4 linked regions of the Homo sapiens genome follow. The protein of the gene in region 3 interacts with the protein of the main gene of each other region in a pairwise test. Each region holds a gene or a part of one and is shown on either strand. Other genes may lie near its edges. The genes, in order: EDDM3B, FUNDC2, KCNJ6 and ITGAM.

What was found.
Region 1: the proteins of KCNJ6 (region 3) and EDDM3B interact in binary tests that used the Homo sapiens proteins (3 or more experiments, as listed by UniProt).
Region 2: the proteins of KCNJ6 (region 3) and FUNDC2 interact in binary tests that used the Homo sapiens proteins (3 or more experiments, as listed by UniProt).
Region 4: the proteins of KCNJ6 (region 3) and ITGAM interact in binary tests that used the Homo sapiens proteins (3 or more experiments, as listed by UniProt).

What each region holds. Positions count from the first base shown.
Region 1 is NC_000014.9:20,763,293-20,771,851, reverse strand, and holds EDDM3B (epididymal secretory protein E3-beta precursor), read right to left. Parts: upstream 3,449-8,559; 5' UTR 3,346-3,448; intron 1,720-3,345; 5' UTR 1,702-1,719; coding exon 1,258-1,701; 3' UTR 904-1,257; downstream 1-903. UniProt on the Homo sapiens protein: Possible function in sperm maturation.
Region 2 is NC_000023.11:155,049,987-155,057,843, reverse strand, and holds part of FUNDC2 (FUN14 domain-containing protein 2), read right to left. Parts: intron 6,175-7,857; coding exon 6,043-6,174; intron 3,250-6,042; coding exon 3,172-3,249; 3' UTR 1-3,171. UniProt on the Homo sapiens protein: Binds directly and specifically 1,2-Diacyl-sn-glycero-3-phospho-(1'-myo-inositol-3',4',5'-bisphosphate) (PIP3) leading to the recruitment of PIP3 to mitochondria and may play a role in the regulation of the platelet activation via AKT/GSK3B/cGMP signaling pathways.
Region 3 is NC_000021.9:37,710,019-37,717,875, forward strand, and holds part of KCNJ6 (G protein-activated inward rectifier potassium channel 2), read right to left. Parts: intron 7,218-7,857; exon of another isoform or gene 7,103-7,217; intron 6,184-7,102; exon of another isoform or gene 5,114-6,183; coding exon 4,193-5,113; intron 426-4,192; exon of another isoform or gene 296-425; intron 1-295. UniProt on the Homo sapiens protein: Inward rectifier potassium channels are characterized by a greater tendency to allow potassium to flow into the cell rather than out of it.
Region 4 is NC_000016.10:31,262,788-31,270,644, forward strand, and holds part of ITGAM (integrin alpha-M isoform 2 precursor), read left to right. Parts: intron 1-2,607; coding exon 2,608-2,711; intron 2,712-2,994; coding exon of another isoform or gene 2,995-3,023; coding exon 3,024-3,094; intron 3,095-3,242; coding exon 3,243-3,360; intron 3,361-7,857.

The sequences.
Region 1 (8,559 bases), on a different chromosome or scaffold from region 3:
CCATGCTACATGTTTTACACCCAGTGAGTTCTGCCAGTGCCCCAAAATCTGAATGGAACTAAAGCATGTCACCACTGTGAAAATAAGCAATCTAACGACCCAGTTGTTGGAACTCTAAATTATTTTTAACCTTAAAGAAATGTGATTTGGGGGCCTGAGTCACATGCCAGGCCACTGTAACCAAGGCAGCTGTAACCGTGGTTTCTATGTTTATAGATTAAACCTTCTTTCTTACCTGCATTGTTCGGTGAAATGTTGTAAATTACTGAAGGGTACAGGGGAAGACTCCTTCCCTCTCCACTGTTGATCTTCATGATAGAGTAACTTCCCTCTCCTCTTAGAAAGACTTCATCGCTATCACATTAAGATGGAATGTTAAATACACTCTTTTAAATTGGAAAGGAAATGAAAAACTATAAAGAAAAGAAAAGAAGACTTGGGGGACAAACTGTAACTAATTAATTTGTTGTAACTCTTAAACCAGCTGTTATAGAAATTGTTGTAATCCTGTTAAATTCTTTTGTCTTTTTCCTACATAAGCAAGAACTTAATTTTCAGCTTTGGAACACTGACTCCATTTCTGTGGAGTCTGTGTGTTACCGAATGGCCACTCCTAGCCTTTTGCTTGAATCAACTCTTTAAAACTGGATTCTGACACTTTTGATTATTTCAAATTGATGCTGCAATCAATGCCTACATCACAACTTGTCTTGAACTAAGCACACAATCATTCATACCCTCATCATATACACAAACATATTACATACATTAGATATGCACCCATAAAATACACCTTCAATCCCTTGCACAGCATCAATCACATGCATAGTCTAGATCACACACACCCATATCAATCACACTATACTCACTCTGTGCACATAACATATATGAATGTCACACACATTGCAGTCATATAATTTATTTAGGGAAGGGAAGATTGTTCAGCTTGGGTATGTATCAAGAGAGTCAATATCAGGAAAGTCTTGGGTTAATCAAGAACAGATGCCATATGAGCTGAATGTCGACAAAAGTATAAGAGTAAATTAGGTAAATGAAGACAAAAGTGTATTCCAGGCAGAGAAACAACACAGGCAAAGTTATGGTATCAAGAAATTATGCTATTCATAACTCTAAGTATTTGGAAAACATTGACAAATAAATGCAAGAGGGGAGTGGTAGGACTATTGATGGAGGCAGGGGCTGCTACTTAGAAAGCACTGAATACTCTACCAATACCTGAGGATGTGCATAGACTTTCTAGTTGCCGATAGGTTCTACCATCTTTAGGTCTTCTATGCTATCAACATACCCGTCCATGCTACAATGGAATTCAATGTAGTTGAAGCTCCTGCTCTCTGTGTAGCTATTTTTGGAATTCTCCTGGTGACACTTGAGTACTTTGAGAGGATTCTGGACCCATACATATGCATTTCGGAAGCGATCCATCCAGTTGTCACTAGTGCATATATGCTCGATTTTGTACCATGAGATATAGATAAACATGTGAGAGCTCTTGTCTTTCAGAGCTTCATTTTCTCTCATGAGGACATCACATTTGTACTCTCTGAATTCTCGACTTGGACTTAAGTAGTGCTGTTTCATGAATTCTCTCCAAGAAACTTCTTTGCTCTGTACAAGCAGTGTGCATAGGATGCAAAGTAGGGCCAAGAGTGTGCCCCAGATCTTTAGAGACGATGCCATCTCAGTCACCGGGGCCGCCTGCGTGTCCACAGAGAAGAGAAAGAAAAGCATTATCCAGACAATGCCCAGAGAGCTGAACTCCACCTTAAAATTCCTTCCCCACCAGGCAGGCACTTGGGTGCAATTTTACTATTTGGTTCCCCGATGAGAAGATGCTAATTCTCATTAGAGAATAGAGTTTCTAAGAACTAAAAACACGCTTCAGCCTGTGTAAGCGAAACACATAATTAGAAAAAATAGATGAAGTTCATTTTGAGAATTCCAACCATCTCCTCTCATCCCTCTCTTACACCCAACCTGAGGAGCCAATCACCCTCCAGCTGGCTCCTTTTTACCAGACCAACTCTCAGGAGATCATGTGTCCAAAAGAGAATGATATTTTAAGGTTTATGTCCTTGAAGTGGAAAGGGTTGTCAGATTTTAGGGAAATGTAGAAAATGAGTAACTACTTGGGAAGTGGTTCCTAGGTAGGAAGGCTTCGATTCGCTAAAATGACAGCCTAGCCTGCAATTACTTCTTGCCTGCTTCTCCAATTACTTAATGATGCTTCTCCAATCTTGACTTCCTTATAACACTTTCTCCAAAGCCTGAGTGGAACGTATGTTCATTACTAACTACCCATATTCCTTCTCAGGGGTCATTCCCCTAATTATCACTATTACAAATGATCTTGGTTTGTCAGAGCTGCTCCTTGAAAATGTCATCATAAAATAACTCCAGTTTTGAGGTTTTTATTTGTTTATTTATTTTTGAGACAGAGTCTCACTGTGTCACCCAGGCTGGAGTGCAGTGGCACAGTCTTGGCTCACTGCAACCTTCACCTCCAGGGTTCAATAGATTCTCTGTCTCAGCCTCCCACGTAGCTGAGATTATAGGTGCCTGCCACCACACACAGCTAATTTTTGTATTTTTTTTAGTAGAGACAATGTTTCGCCATGTTGGCCAGGCTAGTATCAAAATCCTGGCCTCAAGTAATCTACCCACCTCGGTTTCCCAAAGTGCTGGGATTCTCAGGCATGAGCCACTACACCCAACCAGAATTCCAGATTTGAAATATTCCTGTAATCAATCAAGCACCAAGACTAAAAGAGCCCCCACAGTGGCTTCTGTGGTGATAGCATGGAGTGTGGGGATCTTTTTGAAAGAGTCTACCGTTTAAACTAGTGCTCTGTCCTCATTTACCATGAGAAGTGTTCCCGCCCTTACTGAATCTCTAACCTGATTCACAACTCTGAGCATTGGTGTCCTCAGATGGACTTAATAATAGCTCCCTACAGACCTGCAAGTGTCTAATGAGACGCATGTATTTGAGAGCACTTCTAATGATGTCAAATGTCCACATCAGACACAGAACAAAGGGTCGGTACTTCCTATCTGTGGAACCCTGTCCTGATGATAAAGACCTACAGAGGATAGAAGAGCAGGATGTAAGCGGTTTTAATGCATTGTGTTTGAGAAGACTGGGGGTGAAGGAAGGGAGGGGCAGGGAAAGCCTGTATCAGTGGGACTGAGGCTGACCAGAATTCACACCTTTGTTTTCCATGATTTGGATCCTTCTCCATTGTTTGCTATCTAAAAGTTCAATCAGCCTCCTTTCAGTGCTCCTGGCTGTCCCCCAAACATCCTCAGCAGAGCCCTTCTTACCCTACTCAGACTCCAAGTTCAGGTCACTGGTTGTAGTTGGGATCAGTGTGTGGATCTGAAGAGCAGAGTCTGAGTCCTCCTTTCCTCAGGGCCCTGGAAATCTGCAGCAGTGGAGAAAGGAATAGCAGGGGGAGCTGCAAGGCTCCAGCTGATTGGTAGTGGAGGTGGTGATGGGGAATAGCCTTATTATGTGAACTTGTTCCTGTATCTTCTCATCTGGAACACTTGAGTTTATTCAGACAGTGGCCTCAAGCAAAGGCTACAAACATCAAAGGCTGACTCCAGGGCACAGAAGAAGTGCAAGACCCTAGAGTGAGGTGACCCCAGAAAGGGGTTATCTGGTGCTATCAGTAGACAACGAGAGACCTGGCTTCTGCACTCAATTTCTGACAAAGTTCTGGGAAGTCCCTGGAGGGTTATGCTATGTTACACAGAAACTTCTCTGAAGAAAGCCACTTATAACATTGTGAACTGTGGGACTTTCGTTGAGAGGTGAAAGAGTATCTAGTGAAACTGGTGGCCAGATAGTTATGATTAGGTAGCCAGTATCTGAAGTTTTACTAGGCAGTTTGTTATTGTCGATGAAACGAGTCAGCTGGGTGTGGTGGCTCACGCCTGTAATCCCAGCACTTTGGGAGGCCAAGGCGGGAGGATCACCTGAGGTCAGGAGTTCAAGACCTACCTGGCCGAGGTGGTGAAACCCCATCTCTACTAAAAATACAAAAATTAGCTGGGCGTGGTGGTGGGCACCTGTAATCCCAGCTACTTGGGAGGCCGAGGCAGGTGAATCGCTTGAACCTGGGAGGCAGAGGTTGCAGTGAGCCGAGATCACGCCATTGCACTCCAGCCTGGGCAACAGGAGCAAAACACCATTTCAAAACAAAAGAAAAGAAAAAAAAAAGAGTCAAACTCTGTAAAATATTTGAAGAGATTTATTCTGAGCCAAATATGAGTGACCATGGCCTATGACACAGCTCTCAGGAGGTCCTGAGGACATGTGCCCAAGGTGGTTGGAGCACAGCTGGTTTTATACATTTTAGAGAGGCATGAAACATCAATCAAATACATTTAAGAAATACATTGGTTTGGTCCAGCAAGGCGGGACAACTCAAAGCTGATGGGGAGTGGAGGGCCTCCAGGCCATAGGTGTATTTAAACATTTTCTGGTTGACAACTAGTTTTGTCTAAAGACCTGAGATTGATAGAAAGGGAATATTCAGGTTAAAATAAAGATGGTAGAGACCAATTCTTTCGAAGTCTTATAGTGGCTGCCCTTAGAGACAATAGATGACAAATGTTTCCCTTTCAGATCTTAATTAATATCTTTAGGATTGGAAGGTCTGGAAGAAAAATATTTAGCTATGTTAATAGAGATTCTTTACAGATGCAAATTTTCCCCCACAAAGAACAGCTTTGCAGGGCAATTTCAAAATGTGGCAAAGAAACATGTTTTGGGGCAAAATACTTTTTCTTGTTTGTCTGGTAATGTTATGCCAGAGTCAGGTTGGAAAGTAAAACATGATATACAGGGTTAAATAAAACTCATCTGATGAGAATTGATGATTTGTAGGGCATGACTCCCCAGACCCCTTAGATAGGAATTTGGGCAAGATAAAAAAAATCAGAGTTTAGTCCTCATTAACAATAACCTTTGCTGACGCTGTAGTCCTTACTGCCTTAGTAAAATGTCAGGTAGCCTAGCCATAGTTTCCACAATGTTCCTATATATCACATCTGACTCTGAAGTATGCATCACAAGGTGTTGACCTAATTGTTTTTCAGGAACTCAAGACTCAGCCCTAAACTCAGCTCACTCTGGTCAAGACCACCAGCCCTTAAACTGAGTTTGTGTGAGCATCCCATGGGTGACCTTTCCATATCACATCTGGAATTTCCAGCACGTTTCATACCAACTCCCCCTAAATTGGTATATGCAACGAATATTGTTTCAGTAACAGTAACCAAAGGTTTCACTTATGGATAATGTAAGATACTTGAATGTATTTTCTTTTTCTATTTATTTATTTACTTTGGAGACAGAATCTCCCTCTGTCACCCAGGCTGGAGTGCAGTGGAGCAATCTTGGCTCACTGCAACCTCCATTTCCCAGGCTCAAGTGAATCTCCTGCCTCAGCCTCCCAAGCAGCTGGGACTACAGGTGGGCACCCCCACACCCTGGTAGTTTTTTGTATTTTTGGTGGAGGCGAGGTTTCATCATGTTGGCCAGGCTGGTCTCGAACTCCTGACCTTAAGTGATCCGCCCGTTTCGGCCTCACAAAGTGCTGAGATTACAGACGTGAGCCATTGTACCTGGTCTTGAATGTATTTTCTATCAACATCCGCAAGGCCACTCCTACCTGAGCCACCTTGGTTGAGTTTGTCACTGGACCACCTAGCTATTAGAATGTCAGAATATTCCGTTTATATCCAGAACTTTTCTTCATACTTCAGCTCCTGTCAAGCAATCATTGAATAATAGGGAATCATGTGCTGATAGACTCTGTGGGGCACGGGAGAGATATTGTTCCTATGGAACTGAACTGGGGTCTGATCGTCCAGCACAGTAAGATCAAATATCCACACCAAGGTCTGCGGCAGGAGAAAGGAGGGAGTTTATTTGCAAAGCAGCAAGCAAGGAGAACCTTGTGGCTCACACTGAAGACCTGACCTCTCTGATGACTTCAGGTAAGGGTTTTTAAAGGCGGGAAAAGGCCGGGTTCGGTGGCTGACGCCTGTAATCCCAGCACTTTGGGAGGCCGAGGCAGGCGGATCACGAGGTCAGGAGATCGAGACCATCCCGGCTAATACAGTGAAACCCCGTCTCTACTAAAAATACAAAAAAATTAGCCAGGCGTGGTGGCGGGCGCCTGCAGTCCCAGCTACTGGGGAGGCTGAGGCAGGAGAATGGCGTGAACCTGGGGGGTGGAGCTTCCAGTGAGCCGAGATTGCGCCACTGCACTCCAGCCTGGGCGACAAAGCGAAACTCCGTCTCAAAAAAATAAATAAATAATTAAATAAAGGCGGGAATAAATTTCAGGAAAGCAAAAGTTACAGGCAAAATAGTAAATTAAAATGTGGAGATTACACATTAGTTTGGCTGAATAAGGCAAGGTATTGAAGCAGGGGCTCACAGGTCATAGGTAGAGTCAAAGATCATCTGATTTGCAATTGGTTAAGGAGATGAAAGTTTGTTTAAGAATGGGGGTCAGCAGAACAGAATGTTAGCTTTGGATCATGGGTGTGACTTTCTCCAGGCCACTCGAAATAATTTAGATGAACGGTGGTGAGAGTTTAGTCCTCAGTTTCCCCCTTATCTGAGGTCTATGTGCCAGCAGATCTGTTTGTTGGGGGTCTGAGTTTCTGAAGAACTCAGGGATGTATGTTAAGATGCTATTTTTAGTTTCTATAGGGAACCAAACATCCCCTGATTCTAACTTCCCTGGTTATTGTTTTAAGCTAGCATTACCTTCTTGCTTATCTAGTTCCTCTTTTTTCTTTTCAAGGCTAGCTAAGAAATTGAAGATTTTCCTTTATTTCCATGCTGGGTTGGGGAGGGTGCCCTGCTCACCTCTAAGATAGATCCCTGCTCTGTCTTATTGCCTCAGAGCAGGTTCTATGCATCCTCCTACTCTCTAGGTCTTTTGATGATAGAGAAGAGATAAAGGAAACAATTCTGGGCATCTGGATTTGGATGACTTGAGAGGCGATTCTGAGGGAAAATCAGTCGTTTGTCATGTGCCCACACATCCAGAGCTCTTTCCAACAAGTGTGCATTATCTATTGAAGACTTAAATTCAAGTAGTGACTCAAGGAATGTAGAGAGAGGTGGGAGAGAGAAGCTACCTGAGCCAATGTTCGAAGAAGCAAGCTAAGAAAGAGCTCTAGAGCTTTTCAAGGCATCATATCTGATGATATATTCTAGTACATCAGTGAGTAATTTTGAGAATTTTTAGAAGTAATGCATTTGAAAGTAGTTTTAAAACAATAAAATGTAACCAAATGCAGGCTTGGCTGCTTGCAAAACCAATAACAAGGACAAGATGCAGTGAAAAGAAAGAAGCTTTATTCCAGAGCTAGCACTGGAGAAGTGGCCATGGCTTGTGCCTTAAAGGAACCATTTCAAACTTTAGCCTGGGGAGAGGGGCTTACAAAGGGAACTTGCAGTGGGTGGCATGCAAGGAGTGGTGCTGGGTACAGGTCCGTGCGTCTCGTTCTGGTGGCTATCTTGAGTCATGGTCCACCTGGAGCATGGGCTGGCATCATCCCCACAATGGCCGGGTTGTTGACTAACTGCTTTGAGGTAATCTCTGGAATTTTGCAGCTGGGTTTCCATGCCTGTAATCTGTCTCAAAATTAGTCCCTAGAACTTCTAAGTAAGCACATATTTAGATACAAGCCTACAGTCAGATAAATGTATGTGACGTAAGGGAGTGTACGGTGGGAAATGGCGGGGGAACAAAGACTCTTGGTATGTTTCAAAGCTATATATTAAGACTGAGGAGGGGAAAAAATTTCTGCAGTTTGCTTCAAGGTTATATCTTGAGACTAAAAAAAAGAGAGAAAAAAAGAAAAAAGTTTTAAAATGCATTTTCTTTCTTTCTTTTTTTTCTTTTTCTTTTTTTTTTTTTTGAGGCGAGTTTTTGCTCTGTTGCCCAGGTTAGAGTGCAGTGGCACGATCTTGGCTCACTACAACCTCCACCTCCTGGATTCAAGTGATTCTCCTGCCTCAGCCTCCCAAGTAGCTGGGATTACAGGTGCCCTGCCACCACGCCCGGCTAATTTTTGTATTTTTAGTAGAGATGAGGTTTCACATGTTGGTCAAGCGGGCCTTGAACTCTTGACCTCAGGTGATCCACCTGCGTAGGCCTCCCAGAGTGCAAGGATTACAGGCCTGAGCACCGTGCCTGGCCTGAAATGCATTTTTGAAGTTCAGTTACTTGGTTACAGCTCCCTACTGTCAAATCCCATCCATTTCTATGGGAAGTGGTCAATGCAGGCGATCTGGCTACTTCCTGCTGAAAAGAGGCATAATTAGGAGGTAATGGGATGGAATCTGCTTACCTGGAGTTGGAAATATTCTTGAATTCCCAGATTGACAGTGGGAACTTGCTGGAGCATTTTGGTGTGGGGAACTAAGAGCTGCTGAGAAGTCTGTCTTGCATCCCCATACAGACAGCACAATAGCAATAAAATCCATAGCAGCTGAAGAAGACA
Region 2 (7,857 bases), on a different chromosome or scaffold from region 3:
CTCTCCGACTCTGGGGAGAACCTTGGGAAGAAGAGACTCAAAAGTTCTACCTCTCCTGTAGCATGCTCCAAGTCCCCATCCCACCAGGTCCCATTGCGGGAGAGACGCTGGGTCAAAGGGTGGCTCAAAGTGGTGAGGACGCAGGGCCGACCCATAGTAGCCAGGAAGGGGACAGAAGGGGTCCCTGAGCCGGGACACTGTCCAGCACGCTGCAGGACAAGGGAAGGGAAGCCTTCACTACGTAGATGCCATCCTATTGGTTGACAAGTTGGAAGCCTTGAGTGCGGTGTTACCACGTCGCCGCCACAAGGGGGCGATGAAACCCCGAACACATTCCAAGTCAAGTTTCTGCGGACCATATACAGCGACAACGCTCTTCCCAAGGAAAAACTTCCGCCCCACCACCACTAATTAGGAAGTCCAGAGCGTCATTGGACTCTGCTACTGGAGAAAATACGTGCCTAGCTAAGCAGGCCTCTCCAGTCAAATGAAAGTAGTGCACTGAAAGGTGGAGCTGCCTGGTCCTTGAATCATCTCGGTTTTGCATGGAGGAGTGGCAGCTGTTCTTTTGGGGGAAACCTTAACTCCCACTTCACCACCTGAAACAAAACTGCTGGCACAATAGGGCCTTGATTCACAGGTAACCCCAAATGCCTGAGCCTCCTTCACCGATGGTTCAGCTAAACTGAAAACAAGGTGTGCAGCTGTGCGTGTTCAACCTCCATGCCAGCTCTGCACAATCCCAAGTGGTCACAGTGGCCTCACACCGTGGGCAGAACTCACAGCCGTTCTCATACTAGCAGGATGAGGCCAACCTGCAATACTGACCTCAACCATGACCCTCACAGTCGTAGAGGCAGCCAGCTGGGAAAAAACTTCAGGAGGGACCTACCTACAGATCTTAATTCAGACAATCAGAATACAGTCTGAGGCCAGACTATTTATTACAACCTACTCAAGGTAGTTTACAACCACCTGCTAATCTTTGCTGCCCTCACCAATAATCACAGGAAAAACAGATGCACCAAAAGACAACCCCTACCCCACTGGAGAGGCATTGGGTGGCCAGTCTCCCCACATGCAACCCAAAGGGGCACAGAGCACTTTGGTTAGCTTTGCTGTTACCATCCCATTGCTGTGGGTAAGTCACACAGGTAAAGTGGCTGCAGCCACTATCACCATATATGGCATAACCCAGAGACCCAGATGTCAGGAGAGGCAGAGTGTGGGGAAGCAGGAAACAGATGACTCAGTGTCACTACATATGTCTATATCAATATATATAGAGATATAAATATATAGCAAGCAAAAAAAAAAAAATAGAGGAGGATCTATAAGGTTAAGAGACTTATCCAAATCATGCAAATACGATGTGAACCTTGCATGAATTTTGATTCAAACAAACTAAATATAAAACACTTGAGGAAATTTTGAACACTGATCAGATTTTGGATATTATGTAATTACTGTTAATGTCTGATATGATGAGGTATTTATGATTTTTAGAAATAATTCTTACCTTTTAGAGATACATACTGAAATATGATAAAATGACATTTTGATATTTGTTTCACAATAACTGGTAAAAACCAGCAGAGCTATAATTTGATGATTGTTGTGAGTGAGTGATAGATACACAGGGGGATTATTGTACTATATTCTCTACTTTTATATATTCCTGAAAGCGTCCATAATAAAAAGTGAAAAAAAATAAGTTCTTATAGCAAAATATGCAGCAAAGAGGCTCATACCATTATGGTTTTGAGATGATTCATACATATTGCAAGCAAAATGGCTTATGTTTCCTTAAATGTAAGGAGAAAAACGCAAATAGGTGGTTTCTGTAAAGTTCCACACATCCACTGGTAGTTTTGATTTTCAAATTCAATACATCATTCTCAAGACGGGTTAAAATGCAAACATTTTTAAATGTATGGCCTTAGAAACACACTCATATTTCACAAGAGATCATCTCCAAGATTAACAATTCTGAGTAAAACTAACCTTTAATAGTGAGTTTTCTTTCTATAAAGTCATTATTCAAATACTCAGCACCTATTAAGTGCTAGGCCCTGTGAGTATAATGGTGAAGACAGAAGTCTTGCCCTCTGAAAGCTGACTGATATTCTAGTAGGGACTGTAGACATGGTAACATGCCACTACAGCAAAATGTGGTAAGATTCTGTGTGTGCGTGTGTGCCCGTGTGTGTGTGTGTGTGTAAGCTTTTAAAGAATAATTCTCAGGGTTGTGGTCATCATGAGACGGTAGATTACACTTGATGGAAATTTATTTCTCATGTCCTATCACTATCTTTCTTAATTCTGAATCCCTGGAAAGCTACTTCTTTAAAATTCCGGTTTAAATGTTGTATTTCATACTAACTAGATTAAAAAAAAAAATAGTAGAAGTGGCACAGAGGAGTTATGGCCACCCCTAATGTTTTGATAAGGATATTTCATTCACATTTCAAAGCTTAAAACCTTTTCTACAAAATAAAAATCCAAAATCTTCCCTTTCCCACCTAAATCACTTGTTTTACAATAAATAAACCCTTTGGAAACAGCCATGAGATACATTATCCTGTACGGTAGAAAGCATTCCTGGACAATATCAGATTTTTCAATTACAGTAATTATGCTGCCAATTTTGTCGGCATAATTATAACACATTTAAATAGCTTTCTGTAATGTAAAACCAACTAAAAAAGAAAGTAGACACCAAGATACCAAAATCTTTCATGCTTAAAGGCAAATGTATTCAGTTCCTTTCCATGCAGCACACAATAAGGTTATCTATGTGCTTATTTCTTTTCCAAATCAACAGTTTGGGACAACCTTTCAGGATCCACTCATCCTCCACGGTCAGCCATCTTGTAATGTGTTCTCATAAGTGTCTTGCATGGGGGTAAAGGAACCTTCTTGTTGGCCTACAGACTGGCCAAGTAGGGGGTGTACTGGGAGGAGAGCTAAGGACTATTGTCTCTTCTGCCACCATGAAGCTCATGGTGCCACATTGACTTGTACCAGCAGATGCTTAGAGAAGCCACTCAGATTTGCCATGGCAGGGAAGAAGGCATGGGAGAAGAGGAGGAGGGACTCGATGTCCTATGATGGAGTGTAGAGGCTGCTGGCTGGAAAAAACCAGGAACAATGAACATGAGGTCATCTTCCTTAGGATGCCATGCCAAGCAGAAAGCCTCCGAAAAATCCCCCAGTTACTAGAACATTCTTCTTCACAAATGACACCACCTGAAAACAGAAGATAGTACAATGGGTTGTTTTGCTAAGGATGTTAATAATATTAAGAATCATCTCTATTATACCTATGCCAGTCTTAACAATGTCAATCCCCTCATCGGTTACGTAATTTGCACTTTACCCAAAGGGCAATGGACTTACACTAATAGTCTATTTAATAATAATTAAATAGACTTACATATGAAAATGACTACTGGCTGGTGTGGGGAGAATAAGACTAGAGGGAGCCTGATGGGAAGGAGGATGCACATCAGGAGGTAGAGACAATGGCTCTTTGAATCAAGGACAAAGAAGGAGAGTTCATGGGGACAGTTATGGCGAAAGAGTAAAGCTGCACTAAATAAACTGGTTACAGAGGCAATTCTGTTTCCAATTTTGCTCCTTCCATCCTCTTTGGCATCTACCCTCCAATAGAGGCTTCTCATTTCCTGAAGTCTCTCCCCTAAATCTCTCCATCCATGCATTCCCCCCTGAAACCTGCTCCCAGGTAGATGCTATAAATTCTCATTCTCACACTTCACCACATCTAAGATGATTAACAGGTGACGTTCTTATTTCCTTAAGTTCCCAAAGCTTCCCACCTCCCCTCTACCCTCCTGGAATAGCTCCCGGTCATCTGAGACTCAGTGCATACATTCAGACACTCTTTATGGCTCCTTAGTCTGTGCTCTACCAATCTCCTGACCACTCCCCACCCTTCCAATTTCAGAGACAATTTTGATAAGTGGCTCAGACTTCCTCTTTCTCCTAAGTGTGATCACCACCTTAGAAAGTGTTCATATGAACAAGACATCCAACATCCTGGCCTGATCATTTCTTGAACTCAAGTACGGTGACTTCCATCCCCAAACCACCTAAGCTACTCACACCCTGACATTCCCCTAACATTTTTCACACTACCAACCCCATCCTCCTAGGACCACTGTCTTCTAACCCTCCAGTAAGCCCTTACTCCAACGATGCCTATGTCTTCCTGCCTCATTTCCACTCCTCCTCCATCTCTCCTGGACCTCTACATTTCCTTAAATGAAGCACTTTTGTCATCTGCCATTGGGGTGAAGAAAAAAAATCATACAACTTCCTGAGAAAATTGGTTTCGTTTATTATTTTTACTACTCTTTCTTCAACTTGCTAATTTGGCTTTCAACTCCACCACCCCACCAAACTGTTCTCACTGAAGTCATCTTGTTGGTAAATACTGAACTAAATCTTCATCCTGTTTCTCAAATCAGACCACCGGCTCTATGAGTAGGAAAACCAGCCACTACATCCCCAGGGCCTGTGACAGTGAACTCAATTCCAAATTATCTGGTTACTTTATAACAAACTCCCTCTGTGAGTCAACAGTTGGTTCTAATCAAATATTAACTTTATGCTTTTTATTATATACACTTCCAGTATTATTTTTAAAGTTTTCAGCAAGGTGCCATGGCTCACACCTGTAATGCCAGCACTTTGGGAGGCCGAGGTGGGAATACTGCTTGAGCCCAGAAGTTTGAGACCAGCCAGGACAACACAGGGAGACCCTGTCTCTCCAAAAAATTTAAAACTTCACCGGGTGTGGTGGTACACACCTATAGACCCAGCTACTCAGAAGGCTGAGGTCAGAGGATCGCTTGGTTGAGGCAACAGTGAGCCATGACTGTGCCACTGCACTCCAGCCTGGGCAACAGAGTGAGACCTCTCTTACAAAATTTTTTTTTACTCACTGTGGTGAGTCACTGTGCCCAGCCATGCATTATTTTTATAAACATTTGAATAATAAAGTTTTCATGAAATAAAAAATGTAACTTTCCTAACTTTGAGGAGAGACAGAAGGAAGAAAGGAAAGAGAAACTATCTGGGCTCTGGGCTCCTGTAGATACCCATCTCTGCCACCTTCCCACTCTGGGTAAAGGCACCAGCTTTGACCAGCCACTTGCCAATCACCAGCACGAAGAGCCACTCACAACATGAGAAGCCTGAGGCGCACACAGGGTATTTCTCCTCCCCTGCACTCAATCTGTCTGTTTTCCCTGTGAGGCTAGAGTGAGCTAATGGGAGAATCTCTCATCACTCCAGGCTACAGAAAGTACCAGCTATCTTCTTGACACCCTGATCCTTGTTTATTTCTCCCCAGTTCAGTGTACTTATTTATTTGCAACATCTGACATATTTCTAAAGGTAATAAAGCAGCAGCAAAAAATATCCTTTTAAAAAGGAAGGACTTCTCCTGTCCCTGCAGTGCCAGGTCATAATCTAACTTGGCTTTAATGAACAAGATCAGGGGTTAGCAAACTACAGCCCATGGGCCAAATCCAATCTGAACCTGTTTTTAAATAAAGTTTTATTGCAACACAGCCACATCCACTTATTTAACATATCATCTATGGCTATTTTGATGATATACAGTGGAGTTGAATACTTGTGACATTTCCACTAGTTATATGCAGAACAAGCAGAGTATGAATGTTTCAGAGATATGCGTGTATAGCGACAAAATGGGACTCAAAATAATTATACTGGCCATATATCCTTCCCACCTACTATGCTGCCCCACATTCCTACAAGAACTGGTTAAAGGGATAATCACTCCACAAATGTGCACAGACAAAGGTCACCAAACAATTATCCAGCTTTTAAAAATGTTCTGAAGTGATGATAATCCAAGTTAGTTTTGTCTCATTACTCTAAGTTCTTTGTAATGCTTAAGCCCTGTCCATCACTGAGATATGGTACAATAGGGTTAAGCCCTGTTTTTGTCTGCACTGTTCACACACTACACGTGAACAATGCAAGTCTCACCTCCTCAGCTTTGCTCCTGACCTCAGTAGGTATCTGATTGCTCTTACGGATCTTCAGCTGCTCTTTGGCTTTCTTCATGTCCTTCTCCACTCGTTGCCAGTCAACTTTGATGTACCCAGTATGGTTTGCAAGCTACAGTATCAACAATAATGACAACAAGAAATGAGAAACAGATTTGTTATTTCTTTTAGTCAGGATAAATCCTGAAGTAGACTCTCGAAACCCTCTGACTTTCCATTTTTGGAGACATCTGCCATTTGATTCTTTGTATCATGATGACATCTACTCAGCATCCCCCCTATATGCGAAGCCATATGCCTGGCACTAGAAATAACTACTGGCAATTCTTTTAAATTATTTATACTCTTACAACCCTTTTACAAAGAGTTACATAAGATGAAAATCAAGGTGGGGGGTCAAGATGTAGGGTGAAGAGATGGACCTTACAGCCAATACAAATGTTTCCAGAGAATGACTCTGACAATGTGCCCATGAGTGTCAGTTTCCTGACAATGTGAACAGAGCAAAGCATTCAGGCAGTTATTACTGTTGCTTAACAGGAAGAAATCTAGCATCTGGCCCCACAGAGATTTCTCATGAGCAAGTTCATATAAACGGATATTAAGAGAACCACATCCAAAGACACCTACAGCATATACCTATTTCCCTTGATAAAAACAGCAGGCACAAACACTAAAACTCAGTGTAAATCTGATTCAAGCATGTAGATTTTGATGATGGATTAATATCATCCTAGGAATGAAGAGAATGACTGTAGCCAATCAATCAATGCCCTATCAATATCACTTCTCTCTACCAAATTTTTGGCAATCTCAAAATATCTGAAACTAAAAGTCTTCACCTTGCTAGAGTCTCCTCCTGCATTGTTGCTCTTCCTCTAGGCCCTATTTTAGCTAATGGCACCACCAGTCACCCAAACAGACTAGAGAAAATACTTGTGATGTGTATCATAAACAAAACATTGATACTCAAAAAAGTGAACTTCTTATAGAGATCAGTAAGAAAGTTCACTTTAAAAATGGGTAAGGGCAATTCAGAGGAAAGTGTCCACAAAAAGGAAAAAGTTCAACTTCACAAGTAATCAAGCCATAGTACCTTTATTTATGAGTCTATAACTGGAAATACACAAAAGTCTATCAACACATGAATGGATAAACAAATTGTATCATATTTACACAATAGAATATTACTTAGTACTAAAAAGAACAAATTACTTACAGCAACCACATAGTTGAGTATCAACATTTGTATCTAAAAGAAGGCTCTGGTTCATTTACTCCACCCTGTTTATCCCACAAAATCCTGCTATTAAACTGAGAGAATACATGGACTAGCTATTTGAAGGCTCTTACATAAAAACAGCGACGTGCAGATTGGAGAAGACCAGAATTCAAAGCACCACCAAACTGGTGGCGTGTTTCCTGCTTTTCCTGCAGTATCGCCTGGCCTAACCTCAAGGCAGGACTCAAGAAACATCTGACAAAATTCAACGCAAATTCATGATAAAACTCTCAGAGAAAGAGCAATAGAGGGGAACTTCCTCAACTTGATAAAGAACATCTACATAAAAAACCCTGCAGCTAACACTGTACAGAATGGTGAAAGAACGAATGCAGGGAACAAGGCAAAGCTGTCCGCCGTCTCCACTCCTATTAAATATCGTACCAGAAGTGAATTCAGAGTCAGCACAACAAGGCAAGAAAAAGAATTAGGAGGCATCCTGATTCACAAGGAAGAGGTCAAACTGTCTCCAATCATAGACATCTTTGTCTACATAGAAAATTTCATAGACTT
Region 3 (7,857 bases):
ATTTAAATCTTTCAGAAGTTATCTTCTTTAAGAAAAACTTATTGGAAAAAAAAACAGATGGAAGAAGAAGTCATAGATTAAGAGGCTTACAAGATATCTCAACCAATCACCATGTGTTAACCTTATTTGTATCCTGATTCAAACAAGCTGATTGTAAATATAAAAAACAGTGACATGTAAGAGACGATTGGAAGTTTGAACACTTGGTAGATGTTGGATCTTAATTTATTGGTCATTATTTTAGGTGTCATAATGGTATGATAGCTATGTTTTTAAAAGAATCCTTATCTTTTAGGGGCACATACCGAAATATTTGCAGATGAGGATGATGTGATTCTGGTGGGCAGCCAATGAGTGGGGATACAGAGGAAGCAAGTTTGACCCTGAATTGATAATCACTGGAGCAGAATGACGGGGACACAGAGGTTAGTGATACTACTGGGTCTGTTTTTGTGTAAGTCTGATAGGTTCCATCAAAAGAAGTGTAAAATAACCAAAAGGCTTAACGGGGACTCATCCTTGCCAGCACATTTGCCGAGGAGTGGGCAAGTGCTGCCTGTCGCAGTTGTATAATCGCTGGGGGTAAATGTGGAAGTTCGTCAATCAGCAAGGCCGTAGTGGGGGCTGACTGGCAGCAAGCCCAGCGCTGCGTGGCTGTCATCTTGCCTCGAGGCCCATTTGCCCTCTATAAATAACAGTCTATATGAATGCTTTACTATTTTAACACACATGGGCCACAGCTGCTGAGCACGTTTGTTTACGTAGCTATGAAACCTTCTGTAAACACCACTATCTCAAAATCGCCCATGTGTCAGGAACATAAACGGCCCCCTTTAAAAATATATCTGCAGATGAGACACAGCCAACTCCTAGATGTCTGAGTGGCTGGTGTCAGAATTTTCCAGGGTTTGATTCATTTTCAAAAATAGAACCACATGACTGGAAGGTTCTTGAAAGGTCGCCTGGCATGTCCCTCCTGACTTCAGGCGGGACCAGGCCAAAGCCATTCACAAAGGACTCGGGGCTGTTCTGCGTGGGCATGGGTCTGTCTTTTGTGCAGTCCCTTCAAGGCCATGAAAGGGGGGCTCGCTTCCAGCCTTCAAGGAGCCCACTTTCGTTTTCTAAAAATGGAACCTGACCCTGCAATGCGGCTGGCATTGGAAGGCAGTGCATCCACAGAGCACCACTCGCCTGCACCGGGCCTGAGCTCCCAGCAGACGGAAGGACCCAGGTGGCCTCCTGTGGGACAACTCCGGTCTCCGGAAAACACCACGCTGGGATCATCCTGTGCCCAGGATGCCTGCTTCCTAACAGGGAAGAGGGCACCGCGTGAAGGTGGCCATGTGGGCCTTCCCTCCTCCCTGGAAGAGGCCTGCTCGTGGAGACCACTGAGCACAGCAGGTTAAGGTCAACTGCGACATTGTTGAAAGAAGTGATGAGCGCAGGGGAAGCTGTTTTGTGTCAGCTTGCTATTATCACGGCTCCTGATTTCCAGTCCAGCACTACAATGAATAATTAGATCCCTGTGAATTTGTTTTCCTCGAGTGTGCATTTGGTCCACATTTTTTTTTCCTGTGGTTTTGAGAGATTGAAGCATTTTTCTCCCCTAAGGGCCTGTTTAATGCCCATAAATCCTAATTGAGCTTTTCATTCACAAAGAAACAGTATCCTGCTGAAGCGTAAGAGAGCAGCTGTGCTGGGGGTACTGAGTTGTATGATTCCCCTGAGGAAAAGACCAAGACACTTCCAGTTTCCAGACACCTCCAGAACTTTCTAGAACCCCCCCCCCAAGTCTAGAAATTAGAAGACTATTTTTTAAAAGAAAATGAGTAGCAGTTGCCTTTTCCCAGGGATGGGGTGAGCGTTTGGATTGATTTTGCTGGTAATTACTCAGATTTCTCTATGAAAGCTGTAGAAAGGCCATAGGGTGCTCAGAGGCAAGTATCACTGTTAATTACCAAGAAAACCATATTCCTCCCTTTGGAAAGGCTCACTCATTACCAGCTGTCATCAGAAAGCCAGGGCCTGCCCCAGGGAGAATTCTGACTCAGGGACATCACAAAGATAATTTGCTTATTCCAGATTCATTTATTTTACAGAGATTGGGCTCTGGTTTGAGGGAACACAAAGCTTAACTCCCACAATTTAAAGCTCAGACTAGCATCAGTAACCAGAGGGTACGTCTCCAGTGGTTTTTGCTTCTTGAGCTTGGAGACACTGCCCTCTCTCATGTCCTCTTGGGGGAATTTATGGTGAAAAGGGAAAAGAAAAACTGCATCCTGAGTGGTCAGTTCATAGTGTCAGAGGCTGTAGCTCTGTGGCCGCTAGGGGGATCCAGAGTCCCTGTGCTCAGCTGAGGTTGGGGAAGTTTCTGGTCTGTAGGAAAGTGACAGCTCCCTGTTTGAATTATTTCTCTTTCCTCCCTCCTCCCCAGCCTCCCCTCCTCCTCTCTCCCTCCTCCCTTTCTCTTCCCTCCCTCCTCCCCTTCTCCTCCTCTCCTTCCTCCCTTTCTCTTCCCTCCCTCCTCCTCCCTCCCTCCTCCCCTTCTCCTCCTCTTCTTCCTCCCTTTCTCTTCCCTCCCTCCTCCCCTCCTCCTCTCTCCCTCCTCTTCCCTCCCTCCTCCCCTTCTCCTCCTCTCCTTCCTCCCTTTCTCTTCCCTCCTTCCTCCCCTTCTCCTCCTCTCCTTCCTCCCTTTCTCTTCCCTCCTTCCTCCCCTTCTCCTCCTCTCCTTCCTCCCCTTCCTCCTCCCCTGCCTTCCCTTCTACTTCTCCCTTCTATCTCCCTTCCTCCTCCCCACCCAACTATTGCCACACAAATGCACCCCCAAATCAGGCTCAAGGTACAGATAGTCCTGTTAACACCTGGAGCACTTATGTCTTATTTTGCAACAGTGACTTTTGTTATTCTTTAAAGCTACTTTCCGATTAGGTTCCTGTGCCTTTTGTTCTATGGAAAGGAGACCGCTCCTACCATTGAGCTCCATGCAAAGCCCTTTACTCACGTTTTCACTGTTTGCTGCATTTAAAAACCCTATAGCAAAAGTTTCACACCACCACCGTAAAAGAAATTTGTGAGAGGTTGTGACCTTGCCTGTTGGGTACAGGGAGGTAGAAACATGGGACCCATGGCTTTTCCCTAAAAGGGATCACAGGATTAAGTTACTTGTCACAGGTTGATGAAGAACATGGGGCCAGCCTGCTGGTCATGCAATTTCAGACAATATAAACCACCTGAATCTCAAGCTGAAGACTTAAAAGCGTAAAAGGGCTGATGGTATCAGGAAAAAGGACCCCAAAGACACTATTACTACCTCAAAGAACAATAAAGACCTTAATGAATTAGGGTTCTGGTTTATACTTTCCCCGTGAGGCACTATGGTTATCTTGAGTCCTAGCTGATGGCTCTGTTTTGGGGGATGTTACATACAAACATGGGCAGAACCTGCTTTGCTGTTGGGATGTGTAACGTGCAAATTTCAGACATGAGCGAAGACGTCAGTAAAAACAGACCATTTTCTCTATTTCCTGAACAGATCATCTTCCCTAAAACATCCCAATGATTAGCCATTAACAGCAGGAGGGCCGGCGGGATTAAGATGAATGGATCTTCAACTTTTTTCTTTTCTGCTAGAGTTATTTACTGTGTCTGCAGCTTTATACTTACTGGGAGCTCAGCAGGTTGAATGTGGAGAGATACTAGGCACTCACTTCATACAAAAGAAAAACCAATGCTATAGGCCTTATAAATGACTCTCAAAGAATGGGTGAAATTGCATTTTTATTAAAGCAGTTTGTCAGGCTTCCTTTGAAAGGCTTAACTTCCTCCTTCTAACTTGGTAACAAATAACCTCAAGTATTTAAATTAGCAATGTTTTAAGGCCATTTAAAACATGCTTTAGAGACAGATCAGAGTTTAATTTAGGTAAATATTTGGAGACTTAAAATATATTACATGGTGATTTTTCATTGTTCATTAATTTATTTTCCAAAGGGCTTTAAAAAACTAAATGGTTAGGCTTCTTGGTGGATATACTTCAGGTGAGACATGTAGGCATACTATGTCATGAAGCAAGGGGATGTTGTCAATATTGAGTGAGGTTCAGTATTCTAGATCTTGTAATAGATAAGAACATCAGGTCCAGTTTAAAATGAGCATCTATCCCACAGCCATCCCAGGATAGAACACATCTTACCTGTGGCTTCCACCATTCCTTCTAGGATGACCACAATTTCCAGTTCCTCTTTGGGCAGCTGGGCTTTGGAGATCTCCCAGAAAGGACTCTGTTGGTTAATTTCATGGCTAATGATCAGCGGTGACACCAGAAACAGACGGTCATCCCCCGTGTAATACCCTACGTTGATATCCGTCTGGTTCAACGGGATGAACTCCCCCTCCGAGGTCTGTTTGGATTTGATCAACTTGGCTCTGATGGAAGCCTCCACAATGTGGGAATTCCTAAGGTCCCCTACCCGGAACATCAGGCACAGTTTCCCATCCCGCATGGAGATCACTGCATGGGTGGAAAAGACCAGGGTCTCTGCCCTCTTCTTGGGTTGAGAGATTTTTACAAACATGCATCCCACCATGAATGCATTGACAATGGACCCCAACACAGATTGGATTAAGAGAAGAATAATTCCCTCTGGGCATTTATCTGTGATGACCCGGTAGCCATAACCAATGGTGGTTTCTGTCTCTATTGAGAATAAAAAAGCAGAGACGAACCCGTTGAGGTTGGTAACACAAGGAGTCCAGGAGGGGTCCTCTATGTGGTCCATGTCTCCCCGTATGTATGCGATCAACCACCAGATCATTCCAAAAAAGAGCCAGGTCACTGTGTAAACCATGACAAAAATCAATAGGTTGAATCTCCACTTCAGGTCCACTAATGTGGTGAAGATATCGGTCAGGTAGCGATAGGTCTCCCTCACGTTGCCGTGATGAACATTGCACTTTCCGTCTTTCCTCACGTACCTCTGGATTTTCCTTTTGGTCCGATCTCGGCTGATGTGTCTTGGCAGGTCATCCCTGGCCTGCTTAGGCAACTTTGGCTGGTGAATGGCCACTGGGCTTTCGACGTCCTGATCCATGGAGTCGCCCTCCAGGACGTTAGCTGGTGGTTTGGAGAAAAGAAAAGAAACACTGAATGAAAGGCTGGCTCTTTGAGGACAATGGAACGGCACACTTTGTATGGGCTGGTGAAACCAAATACCATTTGTGTAGCTATAAACAAAGTAGACAAAGCCATTTTTATTCCACACCATCTGGATAGGCCTCTAGTTGACTTGGACTTCTGTGCTCTTCGATCTAGTTTGTGTAAGTACTTCACCATCCTGCCCACCAGGACGGAGCTTATTGCTGCAAAATTGTGTCCCTGCCAGCAGGTTCTACTGAGTCAGCTCTCACAGAGGGATGCCTCCCAACTCTGAGATGCTGTGGCATGGGAGAGGCAGTAAGCTCTGATGAAGGAGTCCTCTTTAGATTCAGACAGGCTTAGCTCTACTACTTAGCAACTCTTAGTGGGCTCTTGGCCATGATATCTGTTATGGACTGTATTGTGTCCTCACCAAATCCATATGGGGCTTGAGCCCCAACCCCTAAGGTGACAGTATTGGGAGATAAGGCCTTTAAGGAGATAGTTAAAGGTTATATGAGGCCATAGGGTTGGGGCTCCAATCTAATAGGACTGGTATCCTTATGCGAAGAGGGAGAGACACCAGGGGTGCACACAAACAGAGGAAAAGCCATATGAGACACAGGGAGAAGGTGGCCATCTGCAAACCAAGGAGAGAGGGCTCCCAGAAACTAACCCTGCCAACACCTTGATCTTGAACTCCAGCCTCCAGAACGATGAGAAAATAAATGTCCATTGTTTAAGCCACCCATTCTGTGATATTTTATTATGGCAGCCTGAACTGACTTACAACACACTATCCAAATTCGTGAGCCTCAGTTTCCTCATTTACAAAATTGATCATGATACCCAACTCACAGTGTTGTTATAAGGTTAAACAAAACCATGTATGTGATCTGTGCCTGCATGTAACAGACTTGCAATCAATATTTTTTTGTAATAAATTGTTCCCTTGTCACTTTCCTTATGTTTAGGGCAAGAGTCTTGAACAAGCTCTTTGAACTATTGGCCAAATTTCAGGGTTTAAAAAACATTTCTGGTTTTTGTCGGTAAGTATGCATGCATTGTACTTTAATGGTTGATTCAATGCCAAGGTAAGTAAAAAAGGGTGGGGAAATGTTCTCTCTGTCTGTGTGCTTACATATTTGATTTGGTTTCTGCCTCCTCAACATTCAACATCTGTAATTTTAGCTTGTGGTTATTTTTTTTCTTTTAAAAAAGTTTAAATTTTTTTTTTTTTTTTTAGAGATAGGGTCTCGCTCTGCCACCCAGGCTAGAGTATAGTGGCACCATCATAGCTCTCTGCAGCCTTGATCTCCTGGGTTCAAGTGATCCTCCCACCTCAGCCTCCTGAGTAGGCACAGGAGGCTCAGGCTTATGTCACTATGCCTGGCCAATTATTTTATTTTCATGGAGACGGGGGTCTCACTATGTTGCTCAGACTGGTCTTGAACTCCTGGTCTCAAGCCATCCTCACACCTTGGCCTCCCAAAATGCTGGGATTACAAGCATGAGGCACCATGTCTAGTTATGTTGTTTCTTATGGCTTTCATGATTAATGCACTGGTTCACTCATTAGTTAATAATGCATTAGGAAAGCTCTCCTAAAACTTGAGTGCAGGGGAATTTTGGAACCGATTTCTGCTGTTTAAAAGCATATAATCCACTTATGAAATTATTTATTTGGCCAATAATACTAAAGTCTTCTACAAGTTTGGTAAGAAATTTCTTCCTCCAGACTTAAATTCTGTGTCGTTTGACTCTGCCATGTGTTTCCTTTATGGACACTCTGTTTTTAATCTTGGTTAAAGGACAAATGTCATCTCTCCACAAACCATCATTTATCTGAATAAGAACATAGCCGGAGATGGGATTTGAGTGCCCCCAACCTAACTTATGAGTTAACCTTGCTCATGGATGATCAGTTGCCTTAAAAATCAATCTCCTGGATCTGTTTTTGTGTTTCAGCCTCAGGAAGAGACAGCATCTGTTCTGCAGAGCCTACTCTCTAGTCTGACAGCTTTGACTTTTAGATGATCTCCCTCAGTAGTCCTTCATTGAAAATAAGAAAAGTCATTCATTTGTAAGAAAATTTGCTTTTTTCCCTTTCTTAGAACAAATACCAGGATAGGTGTTGATGGGGGGCTGTTGAGGTTGGGAGGGCTGGAGGTGGGGTGGGTGTATGGATGGAGGCAGAGGCCATGTCCTTCTCACTGGAGTTAGGGTGGGTGTGTGGAGGGAGGCAGGGGCCATGTCCTTCTCACTGGAGATGGGGTGGGTGTATGGATGGAGGCAAAGGCCATGTCCTTCTCACTGGAGGTGGGTTGGGATGTGTGGAGGGAGGCAGAGGCCATGGCTTTCTCACTGCCGCTACCCCCTACATGGCAGGGTGTTCTTGTCCTTGAATGGTCAACAACTCTGAGCTCTCACTGCTAATTTTGTGCTGAGTGGAAGTCTCTAAATATGACTTTATATGGAACGGTGTCTGGGCTCAAACTGTGCCTGGCTGGGGAGACCTTGTCTGCAGAGCCCTGCGAAGGGTCCAGCAGGCCTGGTGTATATCCCGTCTTGACCGCTGGGAGGCTGCCCAGCTGTGCAAAGCCACCCTAAGCTCTTGTCTTTCTGAGTCCTTAAGTGGGAGAAGAGGGTTTGTCAAATTAGCTGATTCTCAAGTCTTCAGTGATATATCATACTTAAAAAATGTTACAAAGGAAATTTATTCC
Region 4 (7,857 bases), on a different chromosome or scaffold from region 3:
TACAGAAACAGTAATTGTGGAGGTGATAGTACCTTTCCAGAAGAAGGGGGCTGGTCTCTGCTCTTTGCTTTATCTCCCATAATACAGCCCAGTGATTTGAGTCCATTAATCCCATGTTATGCTTGCATTGCATGCCATAATTGGGAGATGCTATAATTTATTTTATTTTATTTTTTTAGAGACTCCCTCTGTCGCCCAGGCTGGAGTGCAGTGGCATGATCTTGGCTCACTGCGACTTCTGCCTCCTGGGTTCAATCGATTCTCCTGCCTCAGCCTCCTGAGTAGCTTGGATTGCAGGTGCCTGCCACCACGCCTGGCTAATTTTTGTATTTTTGTAGAGACAGGGTTTCACCATGTTGGCCAGGTTGGTCTTGAACTCCTGAGCTCAGGTGATCCACCTGCCTCGGCCTCCCAAAGTGCTGGGATTACAGGCTTGAGCCACCGTGCCTGGCTTGTAATCTCCTTTTACATTACATTAGATCTCTTGTTAATGAACATTTAGATTGTTCCCAAACTTTTGCTCTATGAACAATGCTGTCATTTTGCACATGTGCAAGCCTATTTGGAAGTAAAGGCTAGGACTGGGATTGTGGTATCCACGGGTGCATGAGCACGTGCAATTTTAATAGATTTTTCCAGATCCCCCTCTACAGTGGTGGCAGCAATTTACACTCACACCAGAAATTCATGAAAATACCTACTTCCTCATACTCCCTCACTCATTTGCCAACTCAGTGTGCTATCAAACTTACTGATCTCTGCAGATCGAGTAGGTGAGAAGTGGTATCTTAATTTAGCTTTAAATTGCTTCTTTTTTTTTTATGAGAGAGGCATTTTCTGTGAACATGTTTTTCTTATCTGTTGGCCATTTTTCTTTCTTTTTTTTTTTTTTTACTAGTTTGTACAAGCTTTGAGTACACTGAGGAAAGTAGTCTGGGGTATGAGTTGTGAAGCTCTCTCCCTTGTGTATTATTTTTCTTTTGAGTATGCTTATGGTAGTTTATCACATACAAAAATTTATTTATTTATTTATTTATTTATTTATTTATTTATTTATTTATTTATTGAGATGGAGTCTCGCTTTGTCGTCCAGGCTGGAGTGCAGTGGAGTGATCTCGGCTCACTGCAACCTCTGCCTCCTGGGTTCAAGCGATTCTCCTGCCTCAGCCTCCCGAGTAGCTGGGACTACAGGTGCGTGCCACCACGCCTGGCTAATTTTTTTGTATTTTTAGTAGAGATGGGGTTTCACCATGTTAGCCAGGATGTTCTCGATTTCCTGACCTCGTGATCCACTTGCCTCGGCCTCCCAAAGTGCAGGGATTACAGGTGTGAGCCACTGCGCCTGGCCCAGAAATTTATTGAAAATGACTGTGTGGAGGCTGGGTGCAGGGGCTCACGCCTGTAATCCCAGCATTTTGGGAGGCCGAGCTGGGCTGGTCGCTGGAAGCCAGGAGTTCGAGACTACCCTGGCCAACATAAGGAAACCTCATCTCTACTAAAAATACACAAATTAGCCAAGCATGGTGGCACACACCTGTAATCCCAGCTACTCAGGAGGTTGAGACAGGAGGAATGCTTGAACCTGGGAGGCAGAGGTTGCAGCAGTGAGCCGAGATTGCACCACTATACTCCAGCCTGGGTGATGGAGTGAGAATCTGTTTCAAAGAAAGAAAATAAATAAAAATAAAAATAAATAAAATGACTGTGTGGGCCGGGTCCAGTGGCTCATGCCTGTAATTCTAACACTTTGGGAGACTGAGGTGGAAGGATTGTTTGAGCCCAGGAGGCAGAGGTTGCAGTGAGCTATGATTATGCCACTGGACTCCATCTTGGGCAACAGGGTGAGACCCTGTCTCAAAGAAAAAAAAAAAATGGTTGGCCTGGGACTACAGGTGTGTACCACCATACCTGGCTAATTTTTAAAAACATTTTTTGTAGAGATGGGGTCTGGCTATGTTACCCGGGCTAGTTTCAAACTCCTGGCCTCAAATGATGCTCCTGCCTCAACCTCCCAAGGTGCTGGGATTAAAGGCATGAGCCATGGTGCCCAGCTTGAATTGACCTATTTTTATTTTTAAAATTTATTCATTTATTTTTTGGGACAGAGTCTTGCCCTGTCTCTCAGGCTGGAGTGCAGTGGTGCTATCTCGGCTCACTGCAACCTCTGCCTCCTGGGTTCAAGCAATTCTCTTGCCTCAGCCTCCCATTTAGCTGGGATTACAGGTACGCACCACCACGTGTGGCTAATTTTTTGTATTTTTAGTAGAGGCGGGGTTTCACCATGTTGCCCAGGCTGATCTTGAACTCCTGAGCTCAGGCAATCCACCCCCTTGGCCTCCCAAAGTGCTAGGATTACAAGCATGAGCCACCGCGCCTGGTCCTATTTTTAAATGACTTCTGGTTTTTGTGTCATTCTTAGGAAGACCTTTTCTCATTCTGAGTCTTAACATTTTCCCATTTTTTTCTTTGCTAATTCTTCCTCCTAGTCATAGGAATTTAGGAATCCGGGTATGGGCCCCCACCGTCCTCTGGGTGGCAGAACTTCCTCTGTGGTCTCCTTCTCTCCCCACATGTCGAAGTTTTCTCTGTTCCCACTTCTCCCCACAGGGTGGTGGTTGGAGCCCCCCAGGAGATAGTGGCTGCCAACCAAAGGGGCAGCCTCTACCAGTGCGACTACAGCACAGGCTCATGCGAGCCCATCCGCCTGCAGGGTGAGTCACTGCCCCGCCGGGCTGGGACTGGGATTCCCCTGTGAACACATAGGGACTTTCCAGGCACTCCTGTGTCCTGGGGATCTGTGGTGGGGACACAGGTGCCTGCCTCCGTACCCTCTCCTCTGCCTGCAGTCTCTACCCTAGACATCCCCAGGCAACCCCTCTGTGTTCCTTTCTTTCCCAAGATTTAGGATCCCCCTTCACCGTCAGACCTCCTTGTCTCCCGCATGGAGGTGACCCCTGCCCAGCTCTTCCACAGCCTTCTCTGTCCCCCCACCAGGGTGACCATGCCCATATCTGTCCCCGCAGTCCCCGTGGAGGCCGTGAACATGTCCCTGGGCCTGTCCCTGGCAGCCACCACCAGCCCCCCTCAGCTGCTGGTGAGTGGGGCTCGATCAGAGGAGCATCCTAATGGGGGTGTTTGGGGGCCCACGCATGGTGGGGCTGGGGGTCTTGTGGAGGGTGGAGGTGCTGGGGTACAAGGACAGGAAGCAGGGGCAGCCCCTTCCACTGGCTCCTGTCCCCTAGGCCTGTGGTCCCACCGTGCACCAGACTTGCAGTGAGAACACGTATGTGAAAGGGCTCTGCTTCCTGTTTGGATCCAACCTACGGCAGCAGCCCCAGAAGTTCCCAGAGGCCCTCCGAGGTGGGTTGCCTTTGGCAGAGGGAACAGATGCGCAGCAAAAGACCAGGGGAGGGGGCAGGACTGAGGTGACGTCTGCTCAAGGTCTGGGCTCTGGGTGCAGAAGAGTGGGGGAACTGGGTCCCATTAGAGTCAGAAGCTAGGGAGGTGCTAGGGTCTTGTACTTTAGGAAAACGCCTTGGCTAGGCACAGTGGCTCATACCTGCAATCCCAAAGCTTTGGGAGCCCAGGAGCTTGAGATCAGCCTGGGCAATGTAGTGAGATCCTGTCTCTAAAAAAAAAAAAAAAAAAAATTAGCTGAGTGTGGTGATGAGCACCTGTAGTCTTAGCTATTTGGAGGCCAAGGTGGGAAGATTGCTTGAGGCCACAAGTTCAAGGCAAGCCTGGGCAACATAGGGAGATCCCCGTCTCTACAAAAAAAAAAAAAAATTAGCCAGGCGTGGTGGCACACACCTGCAGTCCCAGCTACTCAGGAGGATCACTTGAGCCTGGGAAGTTGAAGCTGCAGCAAGTTATGATTGCACCACTGTACTCCAACCTGGGTGACAGAGCAAGACCCTGTCTTTAAAAAATAAGTCCAGGTCACACTGCAGAGGAGGGGATGGTGCAAGGTGTCATTGGCAAGAGGTGGGAATCTTGGGGACCATCCTGGGGGGCGGCCTTCCACACCCCTGTTCCCCAAACCTCTGTTGATTGAGATTCTGAGTGACTGTATGGATTTTTTTTTTTTTTTTTTTTTTTGAGGCAGAGTCTCGCTCTGTCACCCAGGCTGGAGTGCAGTGGCACGATCTTGGCTTACTGCAACCTCTGCCTCCCAGGTTCAAGCGATTCTCCTGCCCCATCTTCCCAAGTAGCTGGGATTACAGGTGCCCGCCACCACACCCGGCTAATTTTTGTATTTTTAGCAGAGACGGGGTTTCACCATGTTGGCCAGGCTGGTCTCGAACTCCTGAGCTCTGGTGATCTGCCCACCTTGGCTTCCCAAAGTGCTGGGAATGAGCCAGGGAATGAGTGGGGGGCATGAGCCACCATGCCTGGCCAGAGTGCGTGGATCTTTCAAGCTGCTTTTTCCCACTGCTTTGTTCGATGGCTATGCCATCTTTTTGCTTGTCTTCATGTTGATTCTGGGACCACAGGCGAATGTTTCTCCCTTGCATTTTTTTTCTTTCTCAAGCCCTGTTCCTCTATATTTCACCCTCCACAGTTAATCCTCCTTCCTCCACAGAGAAAACAAAAGCTTCAGGCATGGACTCCCTCCACTTTCCCCTTCTCTTATTTTATCTTAATAAGCGGTTTTCCAGTCTTCACTGGAATTTGTTGACAAATTCTAAAGGAGCTGTAACACCGCACTTTCTCCTTTTTCTCAAATTTCCATAATGACAGCACTCCTGGCAGTGACTCACTCGTTTTAGAGGAAGACCTGTCTCTCCTCTGTCCCATGACTAAATTCTTCCATATGGGCTTTTGAGAGTCTCTCATGCACCAACTAAGGTGATCACCTATCTTTCTTTTTTCTTTTTTTTTTGGAGACAGGGTCTTGCTCTGTCACCTAAGCTGGAGTGCAGTGGCACAATCTCGGCTCACTGCAGCCTCTGCCTCCTGTGCTCAAGAAATTCTTGTGCCTCCGCCTCCAGAGTAGCTGGGATCACAGGTGCGCATATACTGATTTTTGTATTTTTTGTAGAGATGGGGTTTCACCTTGTTGCCCAGGCTGGTCTCGAATTCCTGGGCTCAAGAGATCTTCCCACCTCAGCCTCCCACAGTGCTGGGATCACAGGTGTGAGCCACTGCGCCTGGCCCAGCATCTCTTGAATCACTTGTTTTCTCTCTAGGACAATTAACTTCCCCCTTCCTCTGGCTGTAAACACTCTTCATTCTATCTGTATCTGAAAAGCAATCAACCACCACAATCGATAGCCATGAAAACAATCTTCTCTCTTCCAGTCTCCTCCTCATCTCCTGCCATCTCTCCTCACCCTCACCACCCAAGCTTCCTGAGTGCATTCTCTTCACCCCCGGCTGGCCTCCAGCTTCCCTCTCCACCTAGGGGCACTGGGTTCTGGGTTCTCTTTTCACCCACGTGTTCTTCTTTCCTGAAATCACCCAGTTCTGTGGCTTCAGCTAACACTTCTACCTCTCCCTCTTTAGACCTCACTCTCAGGGTTCAAGACTACTTCTTTAAAAAAGTTTTCATTTATTAAAAAATATATAATACATACACTTGGTTCAAAATTCGAAAGGGTGCGGTAGCTCACACCTGTAATTCCAGCACTTTGGGAGGTCAAGGCAGGAGGATTGTTTGAGGCCAGGAGTTTGGGACCAGCCTAGACAACATAATGAGACCCCATCTCTACAAAAAATGCAATTAGCCAGGCATGGTGGCGTGTGCCTGTGGTCTTAGCTATTCAGGAGGCCTCCCAAAGTGCTGGGGTTACAGGCATGAGCCACTGTGCCCTGCCAGTCTTTCTAAAATACAAAACAAATCATCTCACTTCCTTTTCTAAGAACCTTCTGTGGCTCCCCATTGCCTACAGATAAAGTCGAGCTCCTTATTGGAGTAGAAAGGCCCTTGCCCGCTGCTCTTTGCTTGATGCCACCGCTGTGTCTCCATCGCCGTCACATACGTTTGTCCCTGTAGTGCTGTTTCCATCAAACGGCATTCCTGGATTCTGCCAGAATCCTTTTGAGGCCCTTGTCCCATATATCAGTAGGAGTCTCAACTGGGACCAAAAGCACATTCCAGTAATGTAACTGCCCAAGGGGTTCACCTTGCTTGCTGCCTAGACAGAGCCGATTCATCAAGACAGCAGAATTGCGATAGAGAAAGAATAATTCACACAGAGCCAGCTATGCAGGGGACCAGAGTTTTATTATCACTCGAATCAGTCTCCTCGAGCATTTGGGGGCAGAGTTTTTGAGGATAACTTGGTAGGTCGCGGGGGAAGCCAGTGAGCTGGGAGTGCTGATTGATCAGGGATGAAATCATCGGGAGTCGGAGCTGTCTTCTTGCGTTCAGTTGGTTCCTGGGTGGGGGCAGCAAGATCGGATGAACCAGTTTATTGATCTGGGCAGTGCCAGCTGATCCATCAAGTGCAAGGTCTGCAAAATATCTCAAGCACTGATTTTAGGAGCAGTTTAGGGAGGGTCAGAATCTTGTAGCCTCCAGCTGCATGACTCCTAAATCATAATTTCTCATCTTGTGGCTAACGTTAGTCCTACAAAGGCAATCTAGTCCCCAGGTAAGAAGGAGGTCTGCTTTGGGAAAGGGCTGTTACGATCTTTGTTTAAACTATAAACTATAAACTATAAACTAAGTGTCTCCCAAAGTTAGCTCAGCCTACACCCAGGAATGAACACGGACAGCTTGGAGGTTAGAAGCAAGATGGAATCAGTTAAGTTAGATCTCTTTCACTGTCTCAGTCATAATTTTGCAAAGGCGGTTTCAGTAAGATTTATTTACAAAGAGGGGGGTTTATTTATAAAGGGAGTAATTATAAAGCTGTGACAGGCCTAAGGGAGCCATCAGGGACTTTCCAAGCCCTGGGCAAGCAGGTCTGTTGCCACCCCTGGGTTTATGGGTTGAGGAGAGGGAGAGCTCACCAGGGTCTGGAGAGAGTCATGTGGAGCTGGCTTCCTTCTGAGGAACAGTTGGTCTTTTGTGAAGGACATAGCTGTCCCCAAACAACCTCAATGGGAGAACACCCGGACCTCACTGCCCTCCTCCCTCTAGTCTTCTGTTGAGCCCCCTCATCTGCCAAATCCAATGGGAATCCAGAGGGCAACAGAGTCCTGGTGATGGGGTCCCTGCAGGTTGACCTCCCAGGCCACAGAGCTGAGCGGCAATGGGTAGAAAGTGGATTTGGGGATGGGGCAGAAGGCAGAGGAGCACATTCCACATCACTTTATATGTGTGTGCCCTTCCCTTTTCTAGAATCTACTCCTTTTGTATATCTGGCAAATCCTTCCTTCCTTCCTTCCTTCCTTCCTCCTTTGCTTTCCTTTCCTTTCCTTTCCTTTCCTTTCCTTTCCTTTCCTTTCCTTTCCTTTTTTTCTTCCTTTCTTCCTTTTCTTCGAAGTCTTGCTCTGTGACCCAGGCTGGAGTGCAGTGGTGCGATCTCAGCTACTTTTTGTATTTTTAATAGAGATAGGGTTTCACCATGTCAGCCAGGCTGGTCTCAAACTCCTGATCTCAAGTGATCCACCTGCCTCAGCCTCCCAAAGTGCTGGGATTACAGGTGTGAGCCACCTCGCCCAGCTGGGCAAATTATTTCCTGTTCTTCAAGATTCAGTCAAACATCACCACATTCCCTGATTCCCTTGGGCAGAATTAACGAAAATTTTCCATACCACTTTGTCCTTGTTTATTTACTTATTTATTTATTTTTAAGAGACAGGGTCTTTCTCTGTGGCCCAGGCTGGAGTGCAATGGCGTGATCATAGCTCACTGAAGCCTCAACCTTTTGGGCTGAAGTGATCCCCCACCCTCAGCCTCCTGAGTAG